7 linked regions of the Homo sapiens genome follow. The protein of the gene in region 7 purifies or fractionates together with the protein of the main gene of each other region. This does not show direct contact. Each region holds a gene or a part of one and is shown on either strand. Other genes may lie near its edges. The genes, in order: NDUFA9, ATAD3A, FXR1, IQGAP3, DMBT1, SON and PRDM16.

Region 1 (4,408 bases), on a different chromosome or scaffold from region 7:
CTCTCTGTGCCCTCATTCTATGCTAACAGATCACTTCAGGTCTCTATTCTAGTGTCCTCAGTGGGCCATGTCATGGGCATACATAAGCCAACTCTAACTCAATTTTATATACAACCATGAAAGTGCCTCACTGCAATCTGGCTTATATCCCTTTCACGGCACTGAAGCCACGGTCACAATGGTCATTTGTAGACATTTTTTGGTCCTTTATCTTATTTGACTTTTCTGTAAGACTTCATTCTACCAATATTAACAGAGTGCCTAATGTGTACCAGGCATTGTTCTAGGGGCTTGAGATACATGTGAATGAACAGCAATGTTCCCCTTCTTAAAACATCGATTCTCTCCTGAAAACACTCCATTCCCTTTGGTATCTAGAATTCCAAACTCTCATTTCCCACTTAAATGCCTGATCACTTTTTGGCCTTCTTGTAAGTTTCTCTTACTCTGTGGCCTCCTCTTCCACTCACTCCACATACTCTCCTTACTTACTTTATAGATAACTGAGTATTAAAGGAGACAAAGTGAATAGTCTGAAAGGTGTAACACTCAATAAATATCGTTATCACCCTGCATTCTAGTGGTCTATTTTTCTGGTACCCCTGTTAGACCATAAGATTTTTGAGTTTTTGTTGTAACATTCTGACCATAAGATTTTTGAGTGTTTGTTGTAACCTTCTGAGTACCTAGTACATTATCTAAGACATAGTAGGCATTCAATAAACATTTGTTGAATGAATGGATGAAAACCCAAATGAAGATCAGTTTGTGGCACAATGGATGTGACAGTCTCCTTAACCAGACCACTAGGGTGTGACATGGTAAGTTCAAGATTTTATTTTATTTGGTTCAAATCAGGACAATATAAAACCTAGGACGAGAAAGGAGCTCCCATCAACAGTTACCTCAGGGCAGTAGGTTTTTCTTTTCTTTCTTTTTTTTTTTTTTGTTCCAGAGACAGGGTCTCACTATGTTGTCCAGGCTGGATTCAAACTCCTGAACTCAAGTGATCCTCCCACCTCAGCCTCCCAAGTAGCTGGGACTATAGGTGTGCACCACTGTGCGCAGTAGCAGTCACCTAGGCTGGAGTGCAGTGGCACAATCTCAGCTCACTGGAAGCCTTGAACTCCCAAGCTCAAGCAATTCTCTTGCATCACCCCACCTCCACCCCAGTAGGTGGGACTACAGGCAGATGCCACCACATCCAGCTAATTTGGTATGTTTTGTAGAGATGGGGCTTCGCTATATTGCCCAGGCTGGTCTCAAACTCCTGGGCTCAAGCAATCTGCCCTCCTTGGCCTCCCAAAGTACTGGGATTATAGGCATGAGCCACCACTCCCAGCCAAGTCAAAGATATTTAACCCACAAAGAGAAGAAGTAAACTAAGAAGCAGGGAAAGAAGAGAAGGCAACCACAAATCCAAGTCTGAATTAGCCTGACTCCTTTCCCCAATAGCATGATCAGGTTGATTTAATAATGAGCGACATGAAACACAGGGGAACCTGACTGCCCCTTACATATGTGCCTAGCAAGATATTTCTCCAAAATTAAACTCGATGGTTTTAAATTGGAGAAAGTGAAGAACTGCATCTTCACTTTTGGGAAGTGGGAAGATTCACTTTTGGGAATTGGGAAGATTTAATGTTCCAATATATTTTTTTTTAACCAACACTAATCTATTTCTGCTTCTTCTCTATGCTAATGTCATAACACTAGGAGATCTGGAGACCAGCCCTTCACACACCCTATAACCCTAAGGGAGAACATTAGGAACAAGTGTGTGGAGCTGGCTTTTTCAGAAGTCACACAAAAGGAGCACTCTACTTACCGATAGGCAAAAAGCGGCAAGGGGAATGGGAGGAACAATCTGTGAGCCACAGCAAAGATGTACTTCACCAGGTGGAAAAGGAGGTACCGACTGGGACTATAAAAAGACAATACACAGTTCTTTCAATTACACGCTTCTCACAAAGTTTCCTTTATAACAAAATAACATTTTCCTTATAAAAAAGGAAACATATATGCACTGTAGTAGATACAGAATAGCACAAAGAAAAATCACCCATAATCCCATTATGAAAGATAGTTAATATATTTGATCTATATCCTTCTCATCCCCTTACATATATACATTATTCTGCTTTTAATAAATACACAATCCATTCTATTCCGTAATGTCTTTTTCATTTAACATTACATCATAATCGTCTTTCCACATCATTATTTTATTGCATGTTTCATGACAACATATTACACTGCATGTAATCACAATTATTTTATCAATTGCCAGTTTTGAGATATTTATGCTATTAAAATTTTTTTCTTTTATAATGTTTTAATGAACATTCTTGTAATAAATATTTGTACTTATCCATGATTACGCATTTAGAATATATTTGTAGAAGTGGAACTGGGTCAATGTAGACTTTAAAATTTTAAGGCTTTTATTGAATACTTCTAAACTGCTTTTCAAAATGGTTCTATCAATTTATATAAAATGTTAAGTATATAACATTTTAGATAATTATATAAATTATAATTATATATATGTAATTATATATAAGAATGCCCCCTCCACCCGAAATGAGTTGTCATAAGAAAATAAAATTTTTGCCAATCTGCTAGGTTAAAAAAAAAAAGGTATCTCATGTTTTAATTATTATGTCTTTAATATGAGAGATCATTTCTTCACGAATTTTTGGTCATTTATACATCTATCTTTTCTTTCCTCCTGGAGTCCCTGTCTATAAAAATAATTTGTAAGAATTCTCTATATTTTAGTGATATTGTTGGAAATACCTTTTATTGTTTGTATTTTAACTTTTAGTGTTATTTACAGTGTTTTGTGCACATAAAATTTTAACTGTTTAATTTAACCAAAACTACTGATTTTCTTTATGGCTTGGATTCATAGTTAGAAAATTCCTCTGCAGTGACATAAATTTCTACATATTTTGTCTAAACCTTATAAAAAAGATTTTTTTTTTACTATAAAGTTCCTTCTGTGACGTATTTTTGTACATTATATAAGGTAAACATGTAATTATATTTTTCCCAAGATGTAAGCCAATTGCTTCAATGCTACTTACAGAATCATTTACTGTACTGCCTCTTTCCCTATACTGAAATGTCACCCTTATCACATACTATATCCTTACATATAATGGGACTGTTTCTGAACGTTCCGCTCTATTCCATTAATCTGAATAGTTCTGTACGATTTTAACCTAGCATTAATAAGTATCAGTGCTTATAATGCATTTTAATATTTCTTTACCCATTTCCTAATTCATTTGCATGCTTCATGACAGTAAATCTGTGACAACCAAGAGCTGAGTGAAGGTAATTCAGTGAGAACCTCATTATTCTGACATACTTTACTAAAAAACATGAAACTATCAGCCAGGAGAAATATCAGACAAAGGCCTTAGCAGGGTTCTTCAAATTCCAGAGGGATTTGTAAGGATCATTACAGGACATATAATACATGCTACGCCAAGAGCAACTTGAATTTTTACGATGACAAACAAAACTGGTATCATGGGTTAACTAACTCTACATAATAGGTTTCCTTTTCAGCTGTTCTGAAGCACTTTGTGTTCCATCAAGTGCAACCGGAACACTAGTTTAAGTGCCCTTCCTCACAGCCAAAGGTACATTGAAGCCCGCATCCTCCCAGCTTAGATTTCAAGGCTCAGCATCACAGTTATTCCTCTGCAAATATCCTCAGCAAAATCTTGTCTCCCAGGCCCCTACCCACTATACTTGCTAAGCAAAACTCACTCTGGTTGACCCAAACATGTGCCTTCTCTGAGCCTGAAACCCCAGAAGGACAAAACTGTAGACGAAATACAATTGAACTGATTGACTTCACCTTATTTTTTTATCAGTAATTTCCAATGGAACACTCAGTTCTGCTTGGCAATCCCACATGTTCTCCTAGGAAATGCTCTTTCCTGTTCTCCCAGGGCATACTTTCTATCTTCTGTCCTCAAATTTTCCACACACTTTTCTGACCCACTCCATCCTGCCTTTTAGCTAACCTCACATTCCAACAAGAAAAGATACTCCTAACATTCCCACAGCCAAACCTACCTGCATCTGCATATATCCTTGAATTCTTTTCCTTGTTAAAGTTGAAGAAATGTTTGCCTTTTACAAAGGTCAAACCCTCATTTGCACTCTGTATCCAACTCCTCTCAATTCCTGAAGGACTTTGCTCCTTTTCTGTCGGCCTCATCTCCTGAGTCATGAAGTGACATCTCTTTCCTGGACCATTCTTACCAATTTATAAACAAGATGTACCATCTTCCAAATCCAGGGTGGTACCTCCCTTGACAAGACATTCATGTTTCATAGCCTTCTCTTTACCCGTTTCCTTTGCTCCCTTTTACAGGGAAACTTCTCC
Region 2 (4,408 bases), 1.9 Mb from region 7:
CCCACTTCTGCACACACGGGCACACACACACCCCTGCACACACGGGCCCACACACAGACACCCCCACACAGAGGCCTGCACTCACACACCCGCAAACATACCCCCACACAACACGGGCAGGCACACACCCACATGGACACTCACACCTGTAAACACACCCCCATACAGACAGGTACGCACATACACCCCGCACACACACACACAGATACGCACACACACACCACACACAGGTACGTACCCCCCCACACACACACAGGCGCACACATACCCCCCACAGGCTCACTGGCACCCGCGCACTCGGGCACACACACAGCCCCACACACACAGGCGCACACCCACACACACATGGGCATGCCCCCCCATAGACGGACACACACACACCCACACACATGGGCGCGCGTACACCCCCCTATACACATGGGCACAGCCCCCCCGCACACATGGGCACGCACACAACCCCCCCACATGGGCGCACAGACCCCACACACACATACGGGCACACACGCCTTCCCGTCACAGGGACACACACACACACCCGCACATGGGCACACACCCACACACGGGCGTACACACCCCCCCCCACAGGCACGCACAACCCCCCCACCCCCCGCACGGGTACACACACACACACACACACACACCCAAACGGGTGCACAACCCACCCACACATGGGCACAATCACCCCCACACACATGGGCACAGTCACCCGCCTGCACATTCGGGCACCGTCACCCCCCGCAAACGGGCACCGTCACACCCCGCAAACGGGCACACTCACCCCCCTGCACACTCGGGCACAGTCATCCCCCGCACACATGGGCACAGTCACAGGTTTTAAAGGCTTTTCTCTTTTTCTGCGGCTTCTTCTCAGCAACTTCTCAATGAGGAGAATTTACGGAAGCAGGAGGAGTCCGTGCAGAAGCAGGAAGCCATGCGGCGAGGTAGGCTGTCTGCTCTCCTGGCTGGGGCGGAGGTGGCGGGGGCTGCTTGTGGACCCGGCGTGCACTCTGAGCCTGAGTTCTGCCGCCCGGCCCCTCATAGCTACCAGTGCAGTGGGCGAGGCCTGCTGGGGCTCCGCGGGGTGGGGCTGCCTCTCGGAAGACACCTCTGTCTGCGAGTGGACGCCAGGATCTGTTCAGGGAGGGCAGGAGCTGCTTCACTTCATGGGAAGTACAGGGGCCTTTTTTTTTTTTTTGAGACGGAGTCTCGCTCTGTCACCCAGGCAGGAGTGCAATAGCACGATCTCAGCTCACTGCAACCTCTGCCTCCCAGGTTTAAGCAATTCTCCTGCCTCAGCCTCCCGAGTAGCTGGGATTATAGGCTCCCGCCACCACGCCCAGCTAATTTTTTTGTATCTTCAGTAGAGAAAGGGTTTCACTGTGTTGGCCAGGCTGGTCTTGAACTTCTTGATCTCATTATCCGCCTGCCTTGGCCTTCCACAGTGCTGGGATTACAGGCGTGAGCCTCTGCGTTCTGCCTAGAACATGGGTCTTTACTGTCCTGGTTTCAGTGGGGATCACAGGTATTTGGTGCCATGTGGCATTTGTTGGCGAGTGCTCCAGGCAAACGTCTGTCACCACTCTTCACCGTGGGTGGGCTTGTGGCGAGGTGTGTGCGTTTAATGTTCAGTAGCCAGGCACGTGGCACGTCACGCGTGTCTGAGTTCTGACAGCTGTGTTTCTGTGTGAGGGGGGCTTCCTTCAGAACTCCGCGTTCTGGTTTTTTGCTTCAAAGAGCTCGTCCTGAGAAGTTGCCTAGGCCTCTGGGTCGGATTTCTGCCCTAATCCATGGGCAGGGCCGGCCTGTGGCGCTGTCCCTACCAAGGTCTGTGTGTGTCTGTGGCATGGACCTGTCCGTGGCCTTAGCCTATTGGCGGCGTGGGCCTGTCTGTGGCGTGGGCCTGTCCGTGGCCTTAGCCTGTCAGCAGTGTGGGCCTGTCCATGGCGTGGGCCGGTCCGTGGCATGGGCCTGTCTGTGGCGTTGGTCTGTCCGTGGCGTGGGCCGGTCCGTGGCGTGGGCCGGTCCACAGTGTGGGTGGAGGTGGACGCGCTGCACTGCATGGTGCTGAGCTGCCCTGCCTCTCTGGGGCAGCCACCGTGGAGCGGGAGATGGAGCTGCGGCACAAGAATGAGATGCTGCGAGTGGAGGCCGAGGCCCGGGCGCGCGCCAAGGCCGAGCGGGAGAATGCAGACATCATCCGCGAGCAGATCCGCCTGAAGGCGGCCGAGCACCGTCAGACCGTCTTGGAGTCCATCAGGTGAGCACTGCCGAGGCCCGGGCCGGCCACAGATGGAGCCCCGCAGGTGTGAGTCGCTGGTCCCAGGGCGCTCTCCAGCTCTTCCAGGCCTTGCCGCCGTAGGCTGACTCCTTGGTGGGGGCACTGCCCCTCTGTCCTGGCAAGGCCGTGCCGCCATGTCAGGGCCTCACCCTCAACCTGCTCTCGCTGCGTGGCACGGATCTTCGTGTCCTTCCTGGTCACACCACTGCTTTCCCCGCAGGACGGCTGGCACCTTGTTTGGGGAAGGATTCCGTGCCTTTGTGACAGACTGGGACAAAGTGACAGCCACGGTAAACATACTCATAAAACAGGGCTGGCAGGTGGCTGAGGGGCAGCATGTGGGGGCCTCCTGGAGCCCCAGGTCCTGTCCCTGCCGGCTCTGCACAGCCCTGTAGCTCTCCCAGCAGGGAGGAAGCCCACGTTGTACCTGCTGGCCTCGGCTTCTCCTCCCTTCTCAAGCTGGGAGAAGAAAACGCAGTTGCCAGCCTGGGCCACACAGTGAGACCCCATCTCTACAAAAAATCAAATATTAGCTGGGTGTGGTGGCAGCCCCTGTGGTCCCACTACTCAAGAGGCTGAGGTAGGAGGATCACTTAAGCCCAGGGAGGTTGCAGCTGCACTGAGCTGAGATCGCAGCACTGCACTCCATCCTGGGCGACAAAGTCCTTGTCTCAAGAAAAAAATTGTCGATAGTCGTGGCTCACACCTGTAATCCCAGCACTTTGGGAGGCAGAGGCAGAGGCGGGCGGATCACGATATCGGGATCGAGACCATCCTGGCTAACACGGTGAAACCCCGTCTCTACTAAAAAAATACAAAAAATTAGCCGGGCGCAGTGGCGGGCGCCTATAGTCCCAGCTACTCAAGAGGCTGAGGCAGGAGAATCACCTGAACCCGGGAGGCGGAGCTTGCAGTGAGTCGAGATCACGCTACTGCACTCCAGCCTGGGCCACATAGTGAGGCTTCTTCTCAAAAAAAAAAAAAAAAAAAAAAAAAAAAAAACCAGAAGGCAACCCTGACTCCATTTTGCAAAAACCTTCTTTATTCCTTATAAAACCCTGAGAGTTTGAAGTTCACAGATTCTTCTCTCGTTTAAAGCCTCACTCTTTTGTGCCCAGCCTCCGGCCTGCTGTGGTGGCGCCCCACGTCCCACATGGCTGTGTCCTCCGTCCCCACCCCGCCCAGCACACGGTAGGTGCCCGGCACTGAGTGGGCACTTGCTCTGCCGTGGTGCCGGCGCCCAGAGCTGTGACTGCAGCGCCTGCCGGTGGCCTGGTCAGTGTGACGGTGAATGTTGCAGGTGGTGTTGCCACCATGTTGGTGAGACCGTGTCACGTGAGGACATGACGGAGCTGCTTAATGCGCCGATGACTTTTGTTTGTTTGTTTTTAGAGACAGGGTCTTGCTCTGTGGTCAGACTGGAGTGCAATGGTGCCATCTCGGCTCACTGCAACCTCCACCTCCCCAGTTCAAGCAGTTCTCCTGCCTCAGCCTCCCAAGTGACTGGGATTACAGGCTCACGTCACCACACTCAGCTAATATAGGCCTGTGCCACCAGGCCCGGCCAATTTTTGTATTTTTAGTAGAGATGGGTTTTCACCATGTTGGCCAGGCTGGTCACGAACTTCTGACCTTAAGTGATCCAGCCGTCTTGGCCTCCCAAAGTGCTGGGATTACACGGGTGAGCCACCGGGCCTGGCCTAATTCATTTTTTGTTTGTTTGTTTTTTGAGACAGAGTTTTGCTCTTGTTGCATAGGCTGGAGTGTAGTGGCGCGGGTCCAGCTCATTGCAACCTTTGCCTTCCGGGTTCAAGAGATTCTCCTGCCTCAGCCTCCCAAGTAGATGGGATTACAGGCATGTGCCACCATGGCCAGCTAATTTTTTGTATTTTTAGTAGAGACGGGGTTTCTCCATGTGGGTTAGGCTGGTCTTGAACTCTTGACCTCAGGTGATCCACCTGCCTCAGCCTCCCAAAGTGCTGGGATTACAGACCTGAGCTACTGTGCCCAGCCAGCCTAATTGATTTTTAAAACGAGTTAGAGATTTTGGGTTAGTCTTGTTTTCCAGGAATAAAGTACCATTTTTAGTGGCCAAGAATGTACCAGAGGGTGTGGCCCTGTGACATCCGG
Region 3 (4,408 bases), on a different chromosome or scaffold from region 7:
TATATTCTAAGTAAACCTTCACTGAGAAACACTCTACGAGGGCTTTTCCTGATACTGCTATATGGTCCACTACTTTCTCTAAGACAATGAGTAGCAAGAGAAACTTCCAAAAATGGGTGGCCCTGGGAGATGAATTAACTTTTGTAAAATTAAACTGTTTACAAATAATGGATGCTGACAGAGTATAGAAAAGACTACCAGAACTGATGGAGGATTTGCCACCACGTGGTCCACCACGACCTCGACCCCCTGAAACACTTCTGCCTCTTCCTCCTGGGCGTCTCCTGCTGTCACGCTGATGTCGGCTGTCTCGATCATCTTCTCCTGCCAATGACCAATCACTCAGCTCGTCTTTACGCTCAGATTCCGTTTCAGAGGGGTTAGACAGCTCAGAATTTGTACCTTGGAAAAGAAAAGAACATAAACCACTTAGATTTCTATAAAAAGCCTTTTAAAATGTTCAAAATTATGTCCTACAAATTATTGTTTAAATAAGCAATACTGTTTGGCTGCTTCAAAGAAAGATCCATGAAAGTTAAAATCAATCTGAAACGTACTAAGGAATAATCAATTATTATACTATTAATATACTAGTATAGTATCTACTAGTTAATACAGATTAAAAAATAAACTGATGTGCAGAAGGCCGCTCACTTCTTCAAAACCAGCAGAAGAATCCCTCACTGCAGTCTGCTAAGATGTGCTATGTCATGTAATATAGTCAAAGGTGTGACCATCTCATCAGCAAAAGGGGATAATATCCAGGAAATACAAAGTCATGGAAGTTAAAAAAAAAACTGATGTGCAGAAATGCAGTCAACAGAAAAATTACAGAAAATATACAGAACATTAATTCCTAGGTTTTGGCACCAAAAAAAAAAAACCATACAGAACATCATTTATCAATATTAGAATGTACTTAGTATGGATAGTCAAATGTTTCTGCTGATTTGGGTTTTAGTAACCTAAATTATTAGTACAATAAAAATAACTTCAATATTTGAGTAAATTAATCATATTTAGAAAACTGAATAGTTTAACTGTATAGTGTATTTCACCATAATTTCATTGATTCTAGGGTATACTTTTCACATGTTAACATCTCTGAAATCAAGATATTTCTTATAATTGATGGCATCTTTATTATAAGCTAGAAGTAATTTTTCCAGTAGGTTGTATATAAAATGATGGCATGTTTTACTAGCATCTTAAATTGCGGTTTTTGCCATTAAAAGTAACTACTTTTACTTTTTGCTTTTCTTACTTTTAATGGCAAAAACTGCAATTACTTTTGCACCAACCTAATATTTGCAATTACTAAACAGAATTTAAGGTTTCTCTGAAACAGAAGGTCTCTCACCTGACAACAGAACTGAAGCCATGACCAGTGAGACAAATATTCAGCATTGCCTTTAAAAGTTTACAGACCATTTCTAACACTGCAACTATTGTAATGGTGACCTTTCAAAAATTTATTTAAACACCACAAAGATATAATCAGAGGCCTACATTATCATTATTTAATAATTACTGTAACTCAAATGTCAGATACATATGACTCAATCACTATCATATTCATTTCCACTTGTTAGTTCTGGGATGCCACTTCTTCTTTCCCTCTTATATGACCAAATATATCTCCTTCAGGGCCTAGTTCAAATTCTAACTTCAGACCACTGCAACTAAGACAGATCTCTCCCCATTTTTTGTTATCCTAAAATCGCCCCACATCTATCACAGACTGTGCCATGTTGTTATTTTTTCCCCCTGTGGAATTACTTCAAAATTGGTCTATGATAAAGGGTGGAACTCCATCTTATATGTCCTCAAATGCCTGGCAGAGTGTATAACAATTTTCTCAACCAAATAATTTGCTGCATTATTTTGAAGTTCATTTGCTAAACTCTCAGATAAGAGTGATTTCATGAAATACCTTGAAGTTCCCTATATTTAAACTCTGCAATCATTTGAGGAAAAATGCAAACAAGAGCTCTTCAGACATAAGAAGTTTTAAGTATTAAGGTGCAGGGAATAAAATGTAAAGTTTTATACATGAAGGTGCCTCACTTCCTTTCTCCTTTAACGATAACTCTAGGATGCCTACCTTTTCTCTACATGGTGTTAATAGATGTAACTAGTCAATTATAAAAACAATTAGGTAATTAGTTGGATGTGTATTTTTCAAAGAATACATCAAATTTCTATTACTCACTTTCAATTCTTTGTTGGGATTAGAATCTCAGGGAAGGGAATTAATTTCCCCTAACATTTATTTCACCAAATGACAAAAAGTACTTTATTAACAGGATGTCATAAAAGTTGTAATGAAGGCAATTTATCTTTCCTTGAATAGTGAAAAAAAAAGCCTTTCAGAATGTTTAAGAACTTCTGAATTTATTTACAAACCTATACCCTACCTGAAAACATTACCAAAATTCAGGGCAAATGAAGAATACTTCATTCTGAAGACTCTCTCAAAAGTTCATATTGAAGTATCCTTAGAAATCCAGTGTAGTATTTATCTAACCCCGTGTCACAGCAAGTAAAGTCTTCCTTAAATTTAACCTACATATAGTATTCAAGAGACTTAGAGGGAATGTCTAAATCATAGATTTCAGCAGGTAAAACAGATATTGAGGCCGTACCCCCCAAAATTTTAATGTATTGGCTAGTGCTCAACATTACTCATATTAAATAACTGTTAATAACACATATTAAATGTTTCTGTGATAGCAAAAAGGACTCTGCAAATGTGACTAAGGTTAAGGACCTTGAGATAGAGAGATTATCCTGGATTATCCAGGTGGGTCCAAACTAATCTCACTGGGTCTTTAAAAGTAGAGAAATTTTCTAAACTACTGAAAGGGGAATCCCCGCTAGACTTTCCAGAAAGAAACGTAGCCCAGCTGACAAGATTTTAGCCTAGTGAGACCCATGTCAGCCTTCTGACCAACAGAACTATAAGATAATAAATTTCTGTGGTCAAGCCTCTAAGTTTGTGATAATTTATTACTGCAATAGAAAACAAATACTCTAATAAAATCAGGGAAACCATTTATTCCAGCCTCTCAATTTTGTAAAACACAGGTTGGTGATTCAAAGTCGTTTTTTTAAACAAGCTTTAAAAGTAATGACACTAGGCCAGGCTGGTGGCTCACGCCTGTAATCCCAGCACTTTGGGAGGCGAGGTAGACAGATCACCTGAGGTCTGGAGTTTGAGACGAGCCTGACCAACATGGAGAAACCCTGTCTCTACTAAAAATACAAAATTAGTCAGGCATGGTGGTGCATGCCTGTAATCCCAGCTACTCAGGAAGCTGAGGCAGGAGAATCACTTGAACCCAGGAGGGAGAGGTTGCGGTGAGCCGAGATTGTGCCACTGCACTCCAGCCTGGGCAACAAGAGCGAAACTCCGTCTCAAAAAAAAAAAAGTAACAAAACATAATGACATCGTGTTTTTAACCAATTTTAAAATCATATTTTCCCCTCAAACTTCTAAAATCACCTTATGAAGATGGTTTATATCATTTTTCAATGGTTGGTTGTGCTAAGCTTAACAGCTAAAAATAATCACGTTTTATCGACTCCAAGAGGCCATCAATTTTAAGACATTATTTTATGTGCCATTAAAAAAGAAAATGCTGCTAAAGTTGTAAGATGTCCAATTTAACACACATACCAACTTCAGAGATGTTATACTGGGAAATGTTTCTTATAGTTCCTATTAAACTGATAAAACTACAGTACTCATTATATATATATATATATATATATATATAAATCAACTACAAGTCCCTCTGATATAATGTATACATGAACGTCTACAACCAAATTCAAATGGTTTTTCTTGCTTTTCCAAGCCCACTCAGGTTCAGTAACTATTTCAAGAAATAAAATGTTATCAATTCCACTAAGATTCAGAGCTAAGAGTGCCATCTACTGAACAATTTGCACAGCTTTCTTGAATCCAGATGTTTCTCTACCTCTCACATAATTATCTACTCTCAACAAAAGCATTTTGCCAGAGTAAGCTCTCATCAATAAGCCGACTTCCCACAAAAGCTAATAAAATTATTCAATGAATTCATCATACGCATCATCCAATAAGCCAAGTCTGATTATCTATGCTAATAATGTATGGTTCAAAAATCAATGAGAATATATTTGATTTCTATGTGATTACTGGTTAACTGTCTTTTGCATTAAACATTTTCAGAAATATAATAATAGTCTGCAATTTTCATCCCTTTATATGCTGAACACTTCTTTATTAGAATTTTGCTGTTTAGGTTTCAATACTGCATTAAATAAAAACATATATAAGAAAATGAGAACATAAAGATATGATATTAAAGGGCAGGGACACAAACTTACAACTCTACAACAAATTGAAGATAGTTCAGGTTTA
Region 4 (2,661 bases), about 150 Mb from region 7:
TGTCTCTACTGTCCCCTCCCCAACAGACTTCCCTCCCTACTTTCTGAAAGCAAGGAGGAAAGGAGGGAGCTTTCCCTTCAGAAAGGAGATTTTGATCAGAGTGTAGAATCTACAATACCTAAGGAGTTATGGCTTAAGCACCTTTGATATCACCACCCAAGGCTCAGGAAAAGAACCTGCAGGAACTGTGTGTAAAACGGGTGGGGTAGAAATTAGAGTGGCTTCTCTTCTCAGCTTTAGTCTTCAGAGTGGCCGATAAAAACAGAATAGAAACCTAAGCATTCCTTCCTCCTCTCTGTCCCCCGGGGGAAGGAAGAGAGAATAAATGCCACATCTCATTAAGCTTTTACGATCTCAGGCAGGCAGAGTAGGACCACACCGGAGGCAGGCAGAGGGCTGGGGGAGGCTGCAGGAAGGATTCCCCAGTTCTCTCAGGGAGCTGTGTTCCAGAACTTAAAGGCCGGCTCTACAGAAAATGAAATAAGGGTTAACAACAGATGTGGGAGTAACAGCTGCTTTTATTAACATCAGAAGGGCAACAGTACAGGAAGTTGGGTAGATGTGGGGACAACAGAGAGACTGTGGCAGAGGCAGGACTGCAGATCTATGGAAATTGCCTGGAAGAGTCAGCTGTAAGGGATGAGAATCCTGAGGGTAAAAGAGAAAAGGGAAAGACTCCTCTTTGATCTTATGAAGCTGAAATAACAAGATCTTAAACATGAGTGAGAATCTGTTGCCCCAACCTAAGGTGACTTTAAATCCAAGGTAAAAAACACGGCATGGGTATTAGTTTGAATAGGGAAAATGAGAACTCTCTTTGAGCTCAAAAAAAAAAAAAAAAAAAAAAAAATGAAAGCGTTAAAACCCTGATTAAGTCTGCACAATGATCCAGAGTGTAAGGATGGGAGAAAGAATAAATACCCTAGTGACCCACATATTAAACAGACCACAGACAAGAGAACAAGACTTGAAGCTAATGGAAGGTCATCTTGCCCATGCCGCCATGGGGGGCAACAGTGCCACAATGCCACATGGGCACTAACACACACTGCATCCCCCCAGTCCCTGCCCAGGTTGGAGGGTGTGCAGATCACAGCAGCAGAGCTGCCTAGACTCAGGAAGGGCAGGAACACCCACTGCTGATGCAGTGGGAGGTAGGGATGGGGAGCCTGGCCCTGGCTTTGTGGGAGTGCAGAGAGAAGGAAGGCAGAGGGGAAATCAAGCCGCTGGGGCAGTGCTTGTAATATTGGGGTGACTGTGGGAGGGCAGTAGCAGACACAAGAGTAATGGCTTTCCCAGGTCAAGGTCCATGTCCTACCATCTGGCAGGAAAGCCAGGGGTTTGTCATGCATGATAAAAGCCACACAGCTGGACTCTGGGCAAGGCCCACTTTAGCCAATTAGAAGATACACTGTCTGTGGCCAGGCAGGCAAGCTCCTCCCAGCTGGGGAAGGGGTGAGAATCCCTGGGCCTTGCCCAGTCCTGAGCTCTAGGTGTCTGCAGGGAAGCACAGTGGTGAGTTAGTGTTAAAGAAAGCATCCAGAGAGGTAAGAGGGGCTTGGGTAGCACCCTTTGCCTCTGTCACTTCCGCAAAAACTTCTTGTTGAGGAGGAAGATGAGAAGGTTGACATTGACTTTGGCCTTGTTGAAGAGTTTCATGACAGCCACACCCTCATACTGGAGCTGCAGGAGATCCTAGGAGGGAAGAGGCAGGGAGGGGAGTTTAAGGGCTTCTGAATGTGGTCCAGTCAGATGGTGTACAAAACACTCACATCATGGGGCCTTCTGCAGTCACCAGTGGCACTGGCCACTGAAGTAGGGCATTGAAATCCCACTTCACAAATGAGGAAACTGAGGCAAGAGAGGTACAGTGACTTGATCAAATGTCAACTCAAGCAGAACCAGGGCTTGAAATTGTTTTTCTTATTTTATTTATTTATTTTTTTGAGACGGAGTCTCACTCGGTCTCCCAGGCTACAGTGCAGTGGCGCGATCTCGGATCGCTGCAATCTCCGCCTCCCAGGTTCAAGCGATTTTCCTGCTTCAGCCTCCTGAGTAGCTGGGATTACAGGCAGGTGCCACCACGCCAGGCTAATTTTTGTATTTTTAGTAGAGACAGGGTTTCACTATATTGGCCAGGCTGGTCTTGAACTGCTGACCTCGTGATCCGCCCGCCTCGGCCTCCCAAAGTGCTGGGATTACAGGCGTGAGCCACTGCACCCGGCCAAAATCATTTTTCTTACTCAAAAGGTAAAACATCAGAGCAAAAAGATTTGGATTAAAAACTACTGCTCGGCTGGGCATGGTGACTCATGCCTGTAAATCCCAGCATTTTGGGAGGCTGAGGCGGGCGGATCACAAGGTCAGCAGTTCAAGACCAGCCTGACCAACATGGTGAAACCCCATCTCTACTAAAAATACACAAAAAGCCGGTGTGGTGGCGCACGCCTGTAATCCCAGCTACTCAGGAAGCTGAGGCAGGAGAATCGCTTGAACCCAGGAGGCAGAGGTTGCAGTGAGCTGAGATTGCGCCATTGCACTCCAGCCTGGGTGACGGAGTAAGGCTCCGTCTCAAGAAAACAAACAAACAAAAACCCAAAAAAGCAACAACAACAACCACAACCAAAAACACCGTTGCTTCACTCCTTTCCTGAACACTGG
Region 5 (4,408 bases), on a different chromosome or scaffold from region 7:
TTGCTGCCTTCCCAAGGGCCTGCCCACACAGTCAGTGCCAAGAGAAAGAGAATGGGCCGTGCATCGCTGAGGCCCTTCTTTGATTTCCTTGGGGAACCATGGTGCCCCCAAAGAGGCAGCTGGGTAAATCCACCAAGCCTCATAGGCATGGTCTAGTGTGCACTTACCGCTTGGGAAGGAGTTATACCAAGCCAAAAAGCCAGTGTTTTGGAAACTGATGTCACTTCGAAAGTGAATGGTCATTCGGTTGTAAGAAGATGTAAATATTTGCCTGGTATCATTACAGATTTTCCCCAGCAGGAGACTGCTATTCAATGATCCATCAAAGATTTCAACATAATCAAAACTGCAGTTATGGTGTGCCTCCAATCTGTATGGAGAAAATGTATTCAAGTCAACATTGAAATTCCTATTGCCCCTCCATTTTATAAATAGTTTGCACTTTACGAGGGATGCCATTGAATACAGGTTTTTCTTCTAGCTCTTCCTCAATTAAGTCAAAGGACATCAGTGTTCCCTGATGCTTTATGGTAGGAATCAAAGCCACCAAAAGCTTGTCCATGGCACATGAGAGTGAAAAGCATCCCAGCCCAGGACACAGTCTAAACCAGTGGGTGTGCTGCAGAGGAACTCACCCCTCACCAGATGACCAGGCATTACTTACTTCAGATTACTGAAGCCCAGGTTTATGCGATAACCAGAATTCACTTCTATTTCCCAAACACACTTAGCATTGTTGGGGTAGTATGCAGGGTAGGATGGGCTGGAGAATGTCCCACTGGCATAGAATAAGAAGCCACCACAATTTGAAGAGGGTCCTAGAGAGGAGAGAGGGGACATCTCCATTGTACCAGGTCTTCAGGTATTTTGTGACAAGGAATCATCTGTGTAAGTATCATCCAGTTTCATCTTCTGCACTTTATAACAAGACTTAACTTTCCCTGTAAACAAGTCCCCTCTCTTGGGCCTGGTTCTAGGTGGCCCAACATTAGAAGCTTTGATTCAAGTCCCTGCTTTCCCTGTTAGGCCTGGACAGCAACCCTCTGCGAGGAGGTGACCCAAGCTTCAGAGGGAGCATGTGTCACCTCTAGCAAAAATGCCAAGAAAGCAACAAAGTGACAGCTATCATTGTTCAATCAGCTACAGACAGGGACGTGGGATAGTCCTGGCTGAACACAGTGCTGACCCGTGGAGAGCACTCCATAACACAGTGTGTTCCCTAGCGTCTTCCATGAGCACAGGACTCTGCCAATTCACAAGTAGCACAACGTTGGGTTAGGAGCAGGGTTTCTGCAACAAGAAGCCTGGGTTTGCATCTTGGCTCTGCCTCTATCAGCTCCATGATCTGGAGCCAGTTACTTAACCTCTCTGCCTCAGTTTCCTCATCAGAAAAATGAGAGTGGTAATGGCATCTGCCTCATCTGTCTGATGAGGGTATTAAATAAGATATGTATATATGAACATTTATACATAAACATAAGATAGGTTTCTATGTCTATATAAACTCTTAGAGAGTGCCAGGCACATAAGCACCCAGCAATATTAGCTATTGTTATTTATCAGAAAAGGATAAATATTAAGTGGTCAAACATTTTGTTGGTTGGTTTATAGTAATAAAAACTTTTTAAAAACATGTGCACACTCAGTGATAGAAATTAAAACGTCTTTTTTTTTCTTTTTCATAACTCTTTGTTTACTTTTTCTAAGGGGATAAGTCCATGGTTTTTAGCATACTGAGAGCTCTGAAATCACCACAGTCAATTTTAGATTATTTTCATCACCCCAAAAAGAAACCCTGTACTCATTAGCAATCACTCCCCATTTCTTCTCAACACCCTCCATTCCTGGCACCCACTGATCTACTTTTCTGTCTCTATAGATTTGCCTATTGTGGACATTTCATATAAAACAAATTGTACAATATGGTAGTTTTTTTGACTGACTTCTCAATGTGTTTTCAAAGTTCATCATGTTGTAGCATAAATCAATATTAAATTCTTTTTTTTCTTTTGTTTTGTTTTGAGATGGAGTTTCGCTCTTGTCACCCAGGCTGGAGTGCAGTGGCACGATCTCAGCTTACTGCAACCTCCGCTTCCCGGGTTCAAGCGATTCTCCTGCCCCAGCTTCCCAAGTAGCTGGGATTACAGCCGCCCACCACTATGCCCAGCTAATTTTTGTATTTTTAGTAGAGACAGGGTTTCACCACGTTGTCCAGGCTGGTCTCGAAGTCCTGACCTCAGCCAATCCGCCCATCTTGGCCTCCCAAAATGCTGGGATTACAGGTATGAGCCACCGCGCCCGGCCACTATTAAATTCATTTTTATTGCCAAATAATACTCCACTGCATGGACATATCATATTTGTTTCTCGATTCACCATGATGGACATTTGCATTGCATTCACATTTGGCTACTATGAATAAAGCTGTCCTGAACATTCACATACAAGTTTCTGTATGGACATATGTTTTCATTTCTCCTGGGTATATACCTAGGAATACAACTGCTGGGTCATATGGTGACTCCAGGTCTAACCTTTCGAGGAGCCACCAAACTGCTTCTCAAAGTGGCTGTACCATTTTACATTCCCTGCAGCCGTGCATAAGGTTTCCAATTTCTCCACATCCTCATCAACACTTGCTATTATCTGGCTTTTTGACTACAGCCCACCTACTGGGTGTTTCATTTGCATGACCCTGACGGCTAATGACATTGAGCATCTTTCCAATGCCTTCTCTGCTATCTGTGAATCTTCTGTAGAGAAATATCTTTCAGGTCTTTTGCTCATTGTTCAGTTGGGTTATTTGACTTTTTATCATTGACTACAAGAGTCACTTATATATCCTAGATACAAGTCCCTTATGAGATAGAAATACGTTCTCCCATTTGATGGGAAGACAGTGTTTCTTGAAGATCATGTGGCCTGCCCTCCCTTTCTATTTCTACACTGGGAAATAATTAAGGATAAAGTCAAACTTTCAGAGACAAGGATACGAGTTACATATTTCTAATCATTAAATATAAATGGTTATAAAATATGCTATTGTATATAGTCACTTAACATTATAAAATATAATTGGAAACAATGTTTTTGCCCCACAATTAGTAACCGTTTAACTAAATGATGATATATCTATACAGTGGAAAATCATATAGTCATTAAACCTTCTTCTATACAAATAATTTCAATGTTATAAAAATGCTAATTTTAAGGTCATGAAAAAAGTATTATATACACTTAAATGAAAATGATGGGTTATACAATGGGATATAAAGCATGCCATACTGTGTGTGTGTGTGTGTTTGTGTGTGTGTATACAGTGTATGGAATGTATGCCAAAATGCCAACAGTAATTATGTATTTATTCATTAATTTATCCATTCATTCATTCACTCATTTATTCCTTCAATAAACAGTTCTTGAAAGGCAGACACAATGCTAGATAATAAGGATACATTATGAAAAAGGCAGACATGGCCCCTGCCTTCAGGAAATGCAGTTTGGCAGAAAAGATAAACATGATCTTTTGCAAATATATTTCCAATTAGCTAATTCTCAAGATTAAAATCTTTCTGCAGCCTCCCTACCTTTAGGATAAAGATGGGAGTCTTAACCCACCCACAAGGCCCTGAATGATCTGGCCTCACCCGACAGATTTCCTGCAGTCCCTCCTTGCCCGCACCCCACCCTCCTTCAAAGAGCCAAGCTCCTTCCCACCCTAGGGCCTTCAAAGCATCCCTTCTGGTTAGAAGACACTTCAGCAAATGAACCTGCTCCTCTATTAACTCCCAGCTTAAATGTCACTTCCATAAGGAACTTCCCCTAACTCCCCAATCAAGGAAGATCTCTACTAATACTTCCTCTTTGCACACTGAACTTTTCCTTGGAAACAGTTGTCACAACTGTAATTTTCTAGTTTGTTGTGTACAAAATAATATTGTGAGCTCTGAGGAAGAAGATCAGTTTGTCTCTTACATCATTCCATAATTTTACAACCATTCTTGATGGTAGTTTGACCATACACACAGCAAGATCTTAAAATACCTAACACAGTAAAAGTTAATATGCATGAAGTACATTCTATGTACCAGGCACTACAATGACATTGACTTTGGTCCAGTAAACCCATTTATATCCTAAAGGAAAAATTAGTGAGGTATGCAAAAAAATTATCTATAAAAATATTCTTCATCACAAAATCATTTACAGTAATGAAGAAATACAAACAAATATCTAGCATCTGATGATTTGTCAAATAATTCATGGCATATCTGTATAATAGAATACAATACAGGGACTTAAAATGATTGTGAGAAAAGATTTAATAACACAGAAAAGTATCCCTATTATTTTTTAAAAGCAATGAAAATCTATTGAAACATAGCCATATGGTGAAATAAAAATGACA
Region 6 (4,408 bases), on a different chromosome or scaffold from region 7:
CTGAGCGCTCTATGATGTCAGCTTATGAACGCTCCATGATGTCAGCTTATGAACGCTCCATGATGTCCCCAATGGCTGATCGATCTATGATGTCCATGGGTGCTGACCGGTCTATGATGTCGTCATACTCTGCTGCTGACCGGTCTATGATGTCATCGTACTCTGCAGCTGACCGATCTATGATGTCATCTTATACTGCTGATCGTTCAATGATGTCTATGGCTGCTGATTCTTACACCGATTCTTACACTGACACATATACAGAGGCATATATGGTGCCACCTTTGCCTCCTGAAGAGCCCCCAACAATGCCACCGTTGCCACCTGAGGAGCCACCAATGACACCACCATTGCCTCCTGAGGAACCACCAGAGGGTCCAGCATTGCCCACTGAGCAGTCAGCATTAACAGCTGAAAATACTTGGCCTACAGAGGTGCCATCATCACCATCTGAAGAGTCTGTATCGCAGCCTGAGCCTCCTGTGAGTCAAAGTGAGATTTCGGAGCCTTCAGCAGTGCCTACTGATTATTCAGTGTCAGCATCAGATCCCTCAGTTTTAGTATCAGAGGCTGCTGTGACTGTTCCAGAACCACCACCAGAGCCAGAATCTTCAATTACGTTAACACCTGTAGAGTCTGCAGTAGTAGCAGAAGAACATGAAGTTGTTCCAGAGAGACCAGTGACTTGTATGGTATCTGAAACTCCCGCCATGTCAGCTGAACCAACTGTGTTAGCATCAGAGCCTCCTGTTATGTCAGAGACAGCAGAAACATTTGATTCCATGAGAGCCTCAGGACATGTTGCCTCAGAAGTATCTACATCCTTGTTGGTTCCAGCAGTAACTACTCCAGTGCTGGCAGAGAGCATTCTGGAGCCGCCAGCCATGGCTGCCCCAGAGTCTTCAGCTATGGCTGTCCTGGAGTCTTCGGCTGTGACCGTCCTGGAGTCTTCGACTGTGACTGTCCTGGAGTCTTCGACTGTAACTGTCCTGGAGCCTTCGGTTGTGACTGTCCCGGAGCCTCCTGTTGTGGCTGAGCCAGACTATGTTACCATTCCTGTGCCAGTTGTTTCTGCGCTGGAGCCTTCTGTGCCTGTTCTGGAACCAGCGGTGTCAGTCCTTCAACCTTCTATGATTGTTTCAGAACCATCTGTTTCTGTCCAGGAATCGACTGTGACAGTTTCAGAGCCTGCTGTCACAGTCTCAGAGCAGACTCAAGTAATACCAACTGAGGTGGCTATAGAGTCCACACCAATGATACTGGAATCTAGTATCATGTCATCACATGTTATGAAAGGAATTAATCTATCCTCTGGTGATCAAAATCTTGCTCCAGAGATTGGCATGCAGGAGATTGCATTGCATTCAGGTGAAGAACCACATGCTGAGGAACACCTGAAAGGTGACTTTTACGAAAGTGAACATGGTATAAATATAGACCTTAATATAAATAATCATTTAATTGCTAAAGAGATGGAACATAATACAGTGTGTGCTGCTGGTACTAGTCCTGTTGGGGAAATTGGTGAAGAGAAAATTTTGCCCACCAGTGAGACTAAACAGCGCACAGTATTGGATACCTACCCTGGTGTTAGTGAAGCTGATGCAGGAGAAACTCTATCTTCTACTGGTCCTTTTGCTCTGGAACCTGATGCAACAGGAACTAGTAAGGGTATTGAATTTACCACAGCATCTACTCTCAGTTTAGTTAATAAATATGATGTTGATTTATCTTTAACTACTCAAGATACTGAACATGACATGGTAATTTCCACCAGTCCTAGTGGTGGTAGTGAAGCTGACATTGAAGGGCCTTTGCCTGCTAAAGATATTCATCTTGATTTACCATCTAATAATAACCTTGTTAGTAAGGATACAGAAGAACCATTACCTGTAAAAGAGAGTGACCAGACATTAGCAGCTCTGCTCAGCCCTAAAGAAAGTAGTGGAGGAGAAAAAGAAGTACCTCCCCCTCCTAAAGAGACACTGCCTGATTCAGGATTTTCTGCCAATATTGAGGATATTAATGAAGCAGATTTAGTGAGACCGTTACTTCCTAAGGACATGGAACGTCTTACAAGCCTTAGAGCTGGCATTGAAGGACCTTTACTTGCAAGTGATGTTGGACGTGACAGATCTGCTGCCAGCCCGGTTGTAAGTAGTATGCCAGAAAGAGCTTCAGAGTCTTCTTCAGAGGAAAAAGATGATTATGAAATTTTTGTAAAAGTTAAGGACACTCACGAAAAAAGCAAGAAAAATAAGAACCGTGATAAGGGGGAGAAAGAGAAGAAAAGAGACTCTTCATTAAGATCTCGAAGTAAGCGTTCCAAATCTTCTGAACACAAATCACGCAAGCGTACCAGTGAATCTCGTTCTAGGGCAAGAAAGAGATCATCTAAGTCCAAGTCTCATCGCTCTCAGACACGTTCACGGTCACGTTCAAGACGCAGGAGGAGAAGCAGCAGATCAAGATCAAAGTCTAGAGGAAGAAGATCTGTATCAAAAGAGAAGCGCAAAAGATCTCCAAAGCACAGATCCAAGTCTAGGGAAAGAAAAAGAAAAAGATCAAGCTCCAGGGATAACCGAAAGACAGTTAGAGCTCGAAGTCGAACCCCAAGTCGTCGGAGTCGGAGTCATACTCCAAGTCGTCGACGAAGGTCTAGATCTGTGGGTAGAAGAAGGAGCTTTAGCATTTCCCCAAGCCGCCGCAGCCGCACCCCCAGCCGCCGCAGCCGCACCCCCAGCCGCCGCAGCCGCACCCCCAGCCGCCGCAGCCGCACCCCCAGCCGCCGGAGCCGCACCCCTAGCCGTCGGAGCCGCACCCCAAGCCGCCGGAGAAGATCAAGGTCTGTGGTAAGAAGACGAAGCTTCAGTATCTCACCAGTCAGATTAAGGCGATCAAGAACACCCTTAAGAAGAAGGTTTAGCAGATCTCCCATCCGTCGTAAAAGATCCAGGTCTTCTGAACGAGGCAGATCACCCAAACGTCTGACAGATTTGGGTGAGTCATTTTAAAGTTTAATGGGATGGTAGTAGAAAATGTTTTAAACCTTAATTTTTTTCTGACCTTGAGTCAAGTGAAATACTTAGTTACTGGTTTAGGATAAATGTTTCTGTCTTTAAGTTTTTATTATTACATGGTACTGTATTTAGGAACTACTGGGATCAGTGTATTATAATTAGAGTTAAAAAGTCCTGTTTCAGAGTATAATAGAACCAAGGTGTTTCCATATTTGAATGTTTTATTTTGTTTTAGTTATCTTGCCATAGCTAAAAATTGAAAGCAGAAACAGATGTAGAACTCTAGCTAAATTAAAAACAAGCTAAGTATATGCTCAGATTGTTATTGTATGTGTTCTAACATACATCCTTGCAACTAAGCCTAAAATTACAATGTTCCTTTTTAAATAAGTTAACATATCTTAAAATGGCATTATAGGACTGTTAAATGAAGGTAATTCTGATTGGTATAGTTGGTAATGGAAGTGAGTGGGGAATTTTGCGTGTGGGGGTTATTTAATTGGGTAGGTGATACTAGCTAAATAAAGTTAAATATTTTAGATCAGTGTGATTTTTAATAACCTGTTCTGCTTTACTTTAAAGATAACTGTTCTAATTTCCCCTGATTTTTAGTGTGCAGAGGTGATTAAAACTTGATCGATATGAATGATTACCTATAATAAATATGGATAATTTATCCTTATCCCAGTATACTGGACATTTCTAGGCCAGGATTGTCTAAAGAAGAAGAGGTTAAGAGTAAAAAGGGAGAATCTGCATTCAGTTCAACAGAAGTTTTCTGAGTTCTTTTTTATTCACAGCAGAGGAACAGTATGTAATTCCTCAAGTGATTGCAAGTGGTGGAGGAGACATGGGTAAAATGCATATATGTCTCTCTTATAGTAACACTGTCTAAAAAGGACAGAATGTGATTACTATAATACTGATAGAGGTGAGGTACTTTAGGAACACAATGGGAAAAGGGGAAAAGGAATGTTAATTCTGACTTAATGACAGCTTGTTAGAAGAGGTGGCACTTCGGCTGGGCATGGTGGCTCATACCTGTAATCCCAGCACTTTGGGAGGCCGAGGCAGGTGGATCACCTGAGGTCAGGAGTTCGAGACCAGCCTGGCCAATGTGGAGAAACCCCATCTCTACTAAAAATACAAAAAATTAGATGGGTGTGGTGGCACGCGCCTGTAGTCCCAGCTACTCGGGAGGCTGAGACAGGAGAATCACTTGAACCTGGGAGGTGGAAGTTGCAGTGAGCCAAGATGGCGCCACTGCACTGCAGCCTGGGCGACAGAGTGAGACTGTCTCAAAAAAAAAAAAAAAAAGAGGTGGCACTTGAACTGGGGCTCAAAGAGTGATTTAAGGTGTCAGAAGGAGAGTAAGGTCATGATAATTT
Region 7 (3,827 bases):
GTGGGGGTGGGAGGCCAGGTCACCTGGGTGACATCAGTTAAACTCTGTGTCAGCAGGGAGCCAGTGGGGGCCTACGTGGGTGAGACGGTTTGGGGCAGTCCTGGTTGGGGAGGCTGGGCTCGGTCTGGCTGGACATTCCCCTTTGAGGTTTACGCCCCCTAGGCTTCTGGGTCAGAGCAGAATCAGGGTAGGGGAATGGAGCCTCTCCCAGAGGCAGGAGGGCCCCAGGAAGGAATCCCAGGGGCAGTCTGGGGGTAGACAAGAGAAGCCCCTGAGGGGACTGGGTCTGCTCCAGCCCCGGGGCCTCTAGCTCACCCCCTATCCCACCCCTGTGGCTGTCCCTTGTCAGGGCAGCATCAGGCCATGTGAGGTGCTGGTGGACACAGACTTCAGGGAGGCTGACATGGGGAGGGCCACCCTTAGGAAGGGGTGGGTTGAGGACTGGCCTAGAACAGAGGCCCCCAGACCCCAGGCCATGGGCCAGGACCAGTTCTTGGCCTGTTAGGAACCGGGCCACACAGCATGGGGGGCGCAGCGGAACCCAGCTTCCTCTGTGTTTACAGCCACGCCCCATCGTCTGCATCACCGTCTGCACTCCACCTCCCATCAGATCAGTGGCGGCGTGAGATTCTCATGGGGGCGGGAACCCTATTGTGAACTGCGAGTGCGAGGGATCGAGGCTGCACGCTCCTTGTGAGCATCTAATGCCTGATGATCTGTCACTGTCTCCCATCACCCTTAGATGGGAAGGCCTAGTTGCAGGAAAACAAGCTCAGGACTCCCACGGATTGTACACTATGGTGAGTTGTAGAATTATTTCATTATATACTCTAATGTAATAATAATGGAAATAAAGTGGACGATATATGTAATGCATTTGAATCAGCCCCAAACCATCCATCCCCTGGTCTTTGGAAAAACTGTCTGCCACGAAACCAGTCCCTGGTGCTAAAAAGCGTGGGGACTGCTGGCATGGAAGACGGGTTCCCCCAGCACCTCCAACAGGGAATGCTGCATCCCCAGGAAGCCTTGGGGCAAGGCCTGTGGGGTGGGCCCTGGGTCCTGTGTACCTGGAGGCAGGCACAGTTGGGGGACATGCCTGGAGGCTGCTGCATCTGGAGGCTGTCATGCTTGGCAGAGGGACACACCTGGAGGTCACTGTGCTCGCTCTGGGGCCATCCAGGGAGTTGATGCCTTCCTGAGCTTATTCTTTTCTGGAAAATGGGAATAGCCAGGAGTCTGCCCCGGAGGGTGGAGGGAACAAAGCTCCAAGGGCATCAGGGCCTGGCCCCGGGACTCCTCAGTCAAAGCCAGGGAGCCTGGACCTCGGCCGAGCCCTGGCTTGCTCCTCCTCTCCCTTCCACAGGCCTGGGGCCTCTCCCTCAATGAAGCTCGCGGGCACCGAGGCTTAGAAAAGCACACAGATTTATTGCATATCAATCTCATGTATAAATTCATTGGAGCATTGGAAAGATTACATTTGGTATACAGTCCTATTCTACAGCATTAACCTCCAAATCGGCTTCTCCTAGGCTTTCTCTTAAGGAAATGTCTCTACACAAGTACATTTGTGTTCATCACAAGCATCAGAATGCAATTTGCAAAATTGTTCTTTTCATGATTTCCTACACTTCACGTCTTATTTCATTCTTCTCCCACAGCGATTTCCGTATTAATTGGGAACTGCGCCTCTTTCGCGTCAGCAGTTCAGGACTCCTAGTCTCAGACGTAGATCCTAATCACATATTCAATAAGTGCATCTACAGAATTTTCCTTTTAATAAAAATTTCACCAACAGACACGATAATGACCGCTAAGCAGGAGTCATGCACAGTTTACTTATAAACAGAACAGAAGCAATTTACAATCAAGGGGGACATGGGGCGAGCGCCAGCCTCCTTCTCAATGGTCTTTTTAAACATTATATGAAAACCAGACATTTACATTTGATTTCTTTTTCAATACTATACAGTTCTAAAAGAAAAAACAAAACAAAACAAAACTAAACCAAATCTGTAATGTAACAATGGCAGAAGGTGGCGGGCGGCACAGGTCTGTGATTCTGCGAGGATTCTTTATATCGACCTTAAGGGACAAAGTCCATATACACACACGCTTTAAATTACGACTCTGACACCAGGGCTCAGCATCCCTCGTGCCGAAAGCGCAGTGGCAATGCACGTGACGCTGAAGGCAATTGTTAGAATGACTTTTGTTCACAAGTGAATCACACGTTTGGAAACTCAAGCTGCCTTTTATTTATTTATTTATTTATTTTTTTCCAAAAGTGGTAATACGGATCAGTGACAGAAAAGAACAAAACAAACACAAAAATGGAATGGAAGGAGCAGAGGAACTCTTCTAGGAAGAATGCAAGGATGGTTTTGTCACAGTATCACTCATTGCTACAGAGACACAGTTTCATGGCTTTTGATACCCGGCTGACCTCCACTGACCAGGAGCAGCTATGTCCTGGCGTCCCTGGCTGGGAGGAGAGCCTTGCCCTCCCCCACAAGGCTGCAGTGCAGGGGCGAGCTCTGCTCTCCCTCCCCCTAGGACAGCACAGTGAATATAGCTCAGTAGGTTTCAGTCACTTGGGCAGGGGGACGGGACAGAGGGGGCAGGGGACCACAATCCAGTGCTTTGAGGCTTCGAGTCTAAAATACGTGATATGTATTCAGGCAAGTGTTTTGCAGACGCTCATGGGGAAGCGGGGAAGGCAGAGGACGCCAGGGCCCTTGGAATTTCCAGGGCTGGACTCTGGGGACGTGGAGGTCTTGGCCAGTCGGGGTCTGGATGGGACAGCTGCACGCGTGGCCTTGTAAAGGAAGGCCTCTCCAGCTGGGCAGTCTCTCAGGCCACACCACGCCCACCCCAGCCACTGCTCCACACCCCAGGGCCCCAGGCAGGGTGCAGGGGCTCGATCCTCTGGGTTGAAGTCAGTGATATCTTGGGTCCCACTCATGAAGGGTCTGCCAGGCCCACAGAGGAGGAACCCCACGTGCCCAACCTGGGGATGAGAGCAGGAACGGGTGGGGACGTCGGCTCGCTGGGGGCTGGGGTCTGAGGAGCAGCGGAGGGCAGGTGCGAGGAGGCCTCCTTCGGAATTTCCATTTGGGGGATGGGGGTTGACAATCCAAGGAGTTAGCATTGGGGCAGCATTTGGGCTGAACGGAAGGGCCCTGGACCCCTGGCTTGCAGCCCTGACCCTGGCCACCTGGCCATGGACACAGCCAGCTGCCCCGTCGCATCCCTGTCCATGCTGCACAGTTACATGGCCCCGTTACGGTGTGGTGACAGCTGGAGGCCAGAATCTCTGAATTCTCACACCCGGGCCAGGCTCCCTGGCCCTTGTCATCTCTGGGCACCAACACTGCTGGGCAGAGCAAAACTGGGAGGGCGAGGCTCGCTGGGGCCTGGGGCCACACTAAGTGTCGGGGCCGTGTTTTGGGGCGCACCAGCCCAGGAAATAAGTGCTGCCTTTGTCAGGGGCTCTAAGAACAGGGCCTCCTGAAAACGCCAAGTGCTGGGGCCTGGGGGTCTGAATGCTCAGGAGAAACTGGGCTTGCCATCATTTTCAGGGGGACGAAAATATATGACTTAAAACGTGCAACCAGGACTCTTGGGAAAGGTGGAAGGAAAGAGCGCCAAGAGAAGACAGGACGGTTAGGAAGACAGCCGAAAACGGCGGGATGGGACTGGGGGATCCGGAGACCAACGGTAAGGGCGGCTCTCATCGGTTCTGCTCCTGCTGAAAAGACACGCTGAGGGCTCCATCCGTCCGAATGTCCCACTTCAGAGAGACGGGGTCATATTGCAAAAAAAAA

Evidence for each region.
Region 1: the proteins of PRDM16 (region 7) and NDUFA9 purify together in Homo sapiens (affinity purification with mass spectrometry, with the first as the bait; one large-scale study listed by BioGRID). This does not show direct contact.
Region 2: the proteins of PRDM16 (region 7) and ATAD3A purify together in Homo sapiens (affinity purification with mass spectrometry, with the first as the bait; one large-scale study listed by BioGRID). This does not show direct contact.
Region 3: the proteins of PRDM16 (region 7) and FXR1 purify together in Homo sapiens (affinity purification with mass spectrometry, with the first as the bait; one large-scale study listed by BioGRID). This does not show direct contact.
Region 4: the proteins of PRDM16 (region 7) and IQGAP3 purify together in Homo sapiens (affinity purification with mass spectrometry, with the first as the bait; one large-scale study listed by BioGRID). This does not show direct contact.
Region 5: the proteins of PRDM16 (region 7) and DMBT1 purify together in Homo sapiens (affinity purification with mass spectrometry; one large-scale study listed by BioGRID and IntAct). This does not show direct contact.
Region 6: the proteins of PRDM16 (region 7) and SON purify together in Homo sapiens (affinity purification with mass spectrometry, with the first as the bait; one large-scale study listed by BioGRID). This does not show direct contact.

Annotation. Positions count from the first base shown.
Region 1 is NC_000012.12:4,679,721-4,684,128, reverse strand, and holds part of NDUFA9 (NADH dehydrogenase [ubiquinone] 1 alpha subcomplex subunit 9, mitochondrial precursor), read right to left. Parts: intron 1,925-4,408; coding exon 1,829-1,924; intron 1-1,828. UniProt on the Homo sapiens protein: Accessory subunit of the mitochondrial membrane respiratory chain NADH dehydrogenase (Complex I), that is believed not to be involved in catalysis. Required for proper complex I assembly.
Region 2 is NC_000001.11:1,518,050-1,522,457, forward strand, and holds part of ATAD3A (ATPase family AAA domain-containing protein 3A), read left to right. Parts: intron 1-871; coding exon 872-941; intron 942-2,091; coding exon 2,092-2,257; intron 2,258-2,498; coding exon 2,499-2,568; intron 2,569-4,408. UniProt on the Homo sapiens protein: Essential for mitochondrial network organization, mitochondrial metabolism and cell growth at organism and cellular level. May play an important role in mitochondrial protein synthesis. May also participate in mitochondrial DNA replication.
Region 3 is NC_000003.12:180,964,045-180,968,452, reverse strand, and holds part of FXR1 (RNA-binding protein FXR1), read right to left. Parts: intron 403-4,408; coding exon 199-402; intron 1-198. UniProt on the Homo sapiens protein: mRNA-binding protein that acts as a regulator of mRNAs translation and/or stability, and which is required for various processes, such as neurogenesis, muscle development and spermatogenesis.
Region 4 is NC_000001.11:156,524,905-156,527,565, forward strand, and holds the end of IQGAP3 (ras GTPase-activating-like protein IQGAP3), read right to left. Parts: intron 1,696-2,661; coding exon 1,582-1,695; 3' UTR 501-1,581; downstream 1-500.
Region 5 is NC_000010.11:122,626,250-122,630,657, reverse strand, and holds part of DMBT1 (scavenger receptor cysteine-rich domain-containing protein DMBT1 isoform e precursor), read right to left. Parts: intron 819-4,408; coding exon 665-818; intron 371-664; coding exon 168-370; intron 1-167.
Region 6 is NC_000021.9:33,552,392-33,556,799, forward strand, and holds part of SON (protein SON), read left to right. Parts: coding exon 1-3,000; intron 3,001-4,408. UniProt on the Homo sapiens protein: RNA-binding protein that acts as a mRNA splicing cofactor by promoting efficient splicing of transcripts that possess weak splice sites.
Region 7 is NC_000001.11:3,436,203-3,440,029, reverse strand, and holds the end of PRDM16 (histone-lysine N-methyltransferase PRDM16), read right to left. Parts: 3' UTR 1,409-3,827; downstream 1-1,408. UniProt on the Homo sapiens protein: Binds DNA and functions as a transcriptional regulator. Displays histone methyltransferase activity and monomethylates 'Lys-9' of histone H3 (H3K9me1) in vitro.